Linked DNA regions of Homo sapiens: region 2 is reported to be linked to region 1. The links are microRNA targets in miRTarBase. Many come from high-throughput screens and were not tested one by one. Region 1 holds a microRNA gene; the other region holds the end of a gene's coding sequence.

Region 1 (3,537 bases):
TGTTCTACTATGTGTAGAATAAAATCCCAGTCCCTTCCTTGGCCTCCAGGGGCCTGCATGACGAGGTCCCTGCTGATTTTCCAGCATGATTTCATTGTTTACTCTGCTCTGTTTTTTGCTCAGCGTGTTCCGGCCACGCTTGATTCCCCTCTGTTCTCTGAATACATGGAGCCCCTTCCTGTCACAGGCCTTCACACTTGCTGCAATGTGCTTCCTCCCCACACCCGCCCCCTCTGTGTGGTTAACTCCTCTTCACCCTTTGGCTCTCAGTTCAGATGTCACCTCCTCAGAGAGACCAGCCTTCCCCAGTGGCCATCTGGTCATTTCCTTCCTAACACCACTGCCTGTCATTGTCTTGTTCGTTTACTGTTTATTTCTTGACTCTCTCGCTTCAAGAGGTCAAGGATCTGATGGACTCACCCACTGTTACAGTCCAAGTGCTTAGAACAGTGCCCAGCACAGAGTAGGCACTCGGTGGATGTTTGTTGAATGAAGGGAACCCTCCACACCTTTTGTACCAGTTAGGGATTGCATCTGGCTGCCTGAACAGAAACCAACTCCAGGAATGGGATTTAGCCCATGGAAGGTCTGCACAGAGGTCTGGAGGTCGGCGGCCACACCCAGTCACGGACACTGTGGAGGAGCTGGGCTCCTTTGGCTTTATTGCTCTGCCATCCTTAGTGTGTGGATTTCATCCTCATGGCTGCGAGATGCTGCACCATCTTATTTCAAATGGGAAGAAGGAGACGGGCAGAAAGGGGCATTCTGCCTGATCTGTTCCTTATCTGTAAAATGACAGTTTTCCTCAAACCCAGTAAACTTTGCTTGGGTCTTATTGGTCAGAAGTGTATGATGTAGGTGTTCTGGGCTACAAGGGTGTCTAGGAACTCAAAACTTTTAGCTTTTTACCCTATATTGACCAGGCATTGGATGTGGGCTTCCCCAGCAAGGGGATGTGATGTTGTGTGAGGTCATTTCCTTCCACACAGGGAACTTTCAAGCTACCCTAAAAGTATCAGGGTCCTCTTGGCAAAGGAAAAATGGGGAGAACAGATACTGGGCAGGCTGCCAGCAGAGTGGTCACTTCTTTCATCCTATAGCTGTGGTCAGAGAGGAGAGAAGATTTCCAGGAACAAGAAGGGGGAAAGGAATTAGGTAAGTGAGGAGGGAGAGAAGTTCTGCCAGAAACCAAGGTGACATGATTGCTAGTGTTACAATTTTGCCGTAACAACAATAATAATATTGTTTTTAATATTTTCATGTTTCAAGTAAGTTCATAAGGTGAACATTCTCTGGAAAAACCACATATGCTAATATTGAAATAATTTTTAAAAATAATGCAATACCTTAAACTTTAATCTTTTAGAATGGTCTTTTAACTTCAGACTGTGCTGTGTACGTGAAATGCATGGTGGACATTCCCTTGTCTTCTGCCTTATTTTCCTGCAAGATTAATGCCAGCCAGAGACTGATGTGCCAGCTAATATTCCATGGCACCAATTTCCAGTTAGTGGGAACATTTGTGGGTGTCTGCTGTGCAGGGTCACACTGCTGCTCAGGCTGGGAGCTTCTGTTGGAGAAGCAGCTCGCAGCCAACTGGCAAATTTAAAGAGTTGACAGTGTTTTCTGTGGAAGTTCAAAAAACCCAACCTGCTGCTGTCTCTAGGGCTTGTGGACTTTAGGGCGTTAAGAAACTGGAAAGGCTTGCAGAAAATAGCAGGGCAGTTTGGGAAACTGGTCACCATGACAACAGGGCATGGCAGCGGTTACAATGGAAGCAGAGACCGCCTGTGCACCCTTCCTAAGAGGAATGATTCAGGCTTAAGCACCTCAATAAACAACTGGCATGTTTGAAACCGAGGCCTCATTAAACGATTACCTCCAAGAATCACTTTTCAAGGGCAGTCTTCATAGCAGTCAGGCTCACACTTTCTTGCTGGGGTGATAAGTGATGATGTACAAGCACAAACGAACACAGCTACGACCTCATGGTGTGGCTTCCATTAATTGGGTGCTCAGCATGTGCCGGGCTTTGCAGATTTATTAGCTAACTCTGTTATTTCCATTTTACAGAAGGGGGTAGTCAGAGCGGTGGGATGGCTTGTCTAAATGTACACGGGCTGTGAGCAGTGGGGTGGGGTTTGGAACTCAGGTCTGTCTCATTCTGAGCCCTGTGGTCTTTCCTGTACACCAGCCCCTTCATGGATTGCTAGCTTCTGTCCTCACCGCCTTTCACCTAGACATTTGCAACAACTTTTGGACTAGTCTTCACACCCCCAGTCACTCCCACTCCAATCCCCTTCACATTATTGCCAGGTAAATACTCCCAAGTACAGCTGGGATCATTATTGTGTTATTCTTCCACTCAAAGCCTTTCATGATTTCCCACTATCTACTGAATACAAATGTCTTAGTATGGAATTCAAGGCTTTCTCTCCAGCCTCTCCATACAACCTTTGGGGTGATGGGTGGGGCAATGGGATCAGGTGCCTCAAAGGGCATCCCACCTGATCCCACAGCCCACCTGTCACCCCAAAAGCCTGCTGCTCCTGCCCTTCTGCTTCAGTTATGTGTTCCCTGATAGCACACACCATTTAGGACACTTACTCCCTTTTGAGTTTTCTTATTTATGATTGTGACTTATCTCTGCTATTATACTGTATACTCTTAAAGACAGAGCCAAGAAACAGACTCTGAGGTAAACCCTTACTGGAGAGAGCTCTAGTAACACCACCTGTGATGTGGGCCTCTTACCTATCTCAAGCTATATATATATATATATATAATATATATGGAGAATAGTATAATAAACCTCCATGTACCCATCATCAGCTTCAACAATTATCAACATATTGCAAAGCTTGTTTCATCTCTGCCTCCATTCCACTTCGCCAATTAAACATTTTTGAAGCAAATTCCACAAGTCATGTAACTTCATCCATGAATACTTCAGTATGAATCTCTAATAAACTGGGACTCTTTAAAAAAGATATTAGATTGGACCATATCTATTAGATTGGACCAAAAAGATATTAGATTGGACCATTTTGTTATTTTTGTAGGTTGAAATAGTGTAATATTAGCAATTTCATATACTTCAAACTAATATATAACCATGATACCATCATCACACCTAAAAATTAATGAAAACTTCTTAATTCTCTAATGTAATAATAATTCAGTCAGCATCCCAGTTTCTCTAATAGGGTGAGGGGCACAGTCCAGGGCAGAGGGAGGAGTGGAATGGCTGTTGTAATAGGGGCTTCAGCTGATGCCCTGGGGAGCTCTGGAGCTGGGATGGCCATTCAGCAATTGAGAAGACTGGGCCTTTTTACCCTGTATCGGCCAGGCGCTGGATGCAGTCTTCCCCTAGCAAGTAGGTGTGACCTTGGGTAAGGTCATTTCCTTCCACAGGAGCAGTGCCTGGAGAGGCACTCAGCTGTGATCCTTTAGCGGCTAACTCTCCTAGCAGCTGGAGAATCTGGTGCTGCCGTCCCATAGGAAGACCTGGCAGTAATCACCTTACTCATCTTTCTG
Region 2 (3,000 bases), not on the chromosome of region 1:
CACTAGCCCACCGGGAGGAACGAACAACTCCAGACGCGCTGCCTTAAGAGCTGTAACACTCACCGCGAAGGTCTGCAGCTTCACTCCTGAGCCACCAAGACCACGAACCCACCAGAAGGAAGAAACTCCGAACACATCTGAACATCAGAAGGGACAGACTCCAGACGCGCCACCTTAAGAGCTGTAACACTCACTGCGAGAGTCCGCGGCTTCATTCTTGAAGTCAGTGAGACCAAGAACCCACCAATTCCGGACACACTGCTTCTGGACCCTTACTCCTGCTCACAGGCAGTGCTTCCCCAGGGCTCATTTACCAGAAACGACCACACACTGGGTTTTCCAATTATAAGAAACAAAAACTTGTTGCCTCAAGTAGTAGGTTTTAGCAGGTGGATATATGGGACAAGTTAAACACACACACACACACACACACACACGTTCTGATGAGACCTCACAGAAAGCCAGAAAAGCCATGCCACCAGGCTTCAGAGAAACAAGCGGCCCAGGACAGGGTGGCCCACAACAGGGGAAGTCCCCTCTCCTGCCAGTGTCACCATGCAGCACAGACAGGATGCAGCACTCCCACCTGGACCCCAGCCTTGGAAGTCCCTCTCACTGTGATGGCAAGGCCACCCCTTCAGGGATGCCACAGGTTGAGGCCAAAGATGAAGACTGTCTTATGAAACACAGTATTTCCTGGATTGACGTTCAGATGCTTCAGTGGAGACCATGTAATACAAATGTGTGCTGGCTTCTGTCTGCAGCCCAAGGGAGCCTCGTTAACTTCATGTGAAGAACCCTAACAGGAATACACGTGCAGAGATGGAAAGGTAATCAAAGGCCCACTCTAGAGGCAGCCACTAAGGCATGAGCTACATTTATCTTCTGATCTGTAACAGAATCTTAATTAGTACCAAGATATTAGAAATTACTTTTCATTGGTGAAATGAGTTTTCAAGATGAGTGAACTGGCTACAAATATTGTACAGCCCCTTCCTTCCCTAGTATGAACAGGGTATAAGGAATCGGGGAGCCAAATTGCCTATGGCTTTGGAATGGAATCTGAAAATGCTTGCTGGAGTACTCTGTAACCTGCACAACCAGAGAGTCAGCTGAGTCTTGTGGCTAAAATACTCTCTCATCTGTTTAGAATGCATTTTCACACAAGGTGCCACCAAAGCACCTAAGAGGACAGACACCTGGGACTACATCGAGCTTACTGCAGCTGGATGCTGCCTTGTTGCCAGCGGGTGTTGACGTTTGCTTCCACAGCACCATAGTCTGTTAGTGGGAGAGTAGCCTGCGAGAGAGAACGCCTAAAGGACTCACTCAACGTTAACTGAGGCTGTCGACAATCTCTCAGAAAGAACAGAAGAATCCTGCATGATCCAGTCAATGTGACTTAGGACCTTTTGCTCTGAGAACTTTAGTATTCTCACAAGTAATCAGGGAACTTCGGAGCAAACGCTGAGTTACTCATACCACTGAGTACTGTTCCGTGACCTCACTCACACCCAGAAACAAAGGGGTCTGGGGAAATTTGGGGTTACCTTTATATTCCTGAGCAGGCCTTCCACACTGCCATGCTCAGTAATGTGTGGATTTCACAGCACCAGGATTTCTGATCTCAGTTAAATACAATTCAGTTTGTAAAAATCAATCTTAAAGCACTTTGTTTTAATCTTTATTCTCTTCAATTAGAAAAATACATACTACAAAAGTTTCACATTATAGAAAACAGAAAAAAACAAAAATTCCCCCAGAATCCCACCCTCAGAGATGGTTACTCCTCTTTGGTAAGTATTCCTCCAGGTTTTTTAAGCATATAGTAGTACATAAGCAGGAAAAAGTAAAATCCTACTATATATAAGCAACTGCTCTTGAGCAAGTTTTCAAATGGTTCTGACAGATCATTCTGACCAATTTCTCCAGGGAACTTTATGGATTAGTTTTCAGAGAAGATTCCATGACACTGTGGGTAGACAAACCTCTAAGATTTTTCTTATCATTTATAATAAATGTTGTCCCAAGTGTTAAATGTCAAAGTTTTTAAAAATAGTAAATAAATGTGATACAGAGGAAAAAAAGTTCAGAAAATTATCCCAGTTTCTTATCAAAATCAAAACTCCTAAGTCCCAATTCCAACAAGTACCATAAAACGTCTTTAAAATGCGATTTTGAGAAACAATCACTTCTTTATCATAAAATATAGCTATAGAAGTAATTCTACAATTTTGGGTTTTTTTTTTGAGAGAAGGTCTCACTCTGTTGCCCAGACTAGAACACAGTAGTGGCATGACCAAGGCTCACTGCAGCCTCAACCTCCCAAGCTCATCTGATCCTCCCACCTCAGCGTTTCGCATGCCTGGCTAATTTTTTTTTTCTTTTTTTTTTTGTAGAGACGACGTCTCACTATGTTGCTTCATTTAACAAATAAGGGGAGGAAGGGCGGGGGCAGAATGGAGGACACAGACTAGAGTTCAGCTTTTACAAGTGGCAAAGGACAATTTGGATTCGGCCTCCCACAGCTTCATTTGTAATGCTTTCAAGACATCTTCCATCTATTGAATTTAAAAAATAAAAAAATAAAGAAACACACATATAATTAAAAATTATACATGGTTAAATATAATTAAGATATACACTTAATGCAATTTTGGATATGTCATACATTACAAGGTAGATATTCAGTGTTTAACAAAACTATTTAGAGGCATAAATTTTTTAAAAATAAAGCATAATTCTATCAACAGTAGTTCTCAACCTATAATCTACATCTCTTTTATACAATCATCACCATCTCACCTATCTGGCAATGAGAAAATGTTAACATCCAACAACAAGGCTATTTATACCACAAGAATTGAATCAAACAAAATACTGATTTGAATCAAAGATGTATTTCTAGCTTTGCAGTGTTTTAATATATAGTTTTGATTTTGACATGACATGTCTTCCTCATTATTTTGTTGATTAAGCTTTAGCTTTTGAGTTCCCCAA

Evidence for each region. The annotated mature microRNA hsa-miR-3151-3p reads CCUGAUCCCACAGCCCACCU and lies in region 1 at 2,507-2,526, shown strand. An mRNA with a match to its seed (bases 2 to 7 or 8) in the 3' UTR can be bound and repressed. Matches are read on the target gene's strand: a 7mer-m8 pairs with bases 2 to 8, a 7mer-A1 pairs with bases 2 to 7 and ends in A, and an 8mer does both.
Region 2: miRTarBase lists MIS18A as a target of hsa-miR-3151-3p. Seed matches in the 3' UTR shown: 8mer at 2,335-2,342.

The regions. Positions count from the first base shown.
Region 1 is chr8:103,152,156-103,155,692 of GRCh38, forward strand. MIR3151 (microRNA 3151) reads left to right here and starts at 2,459; the gene lies at 2,459-2,534. The region is part of intron 1 of BAALC (BAALC binder of MAP3K1 and KLF4); the gene reads left to right.
Region 2 is chr21:32,266,557-32,269,556 of GRCh38, forward strand. It overlaps MIS18A (MIS18 kinetochore protein A), which reads right to left. Exons shown (of 5, transcript NM_018944.3): 5 at 1,672-2,561. The coding sequence ends at 2,481. Among named protein-coding and RNA genes, the nearest start is that of MIS18A, 11 kb to the right of the region's middle.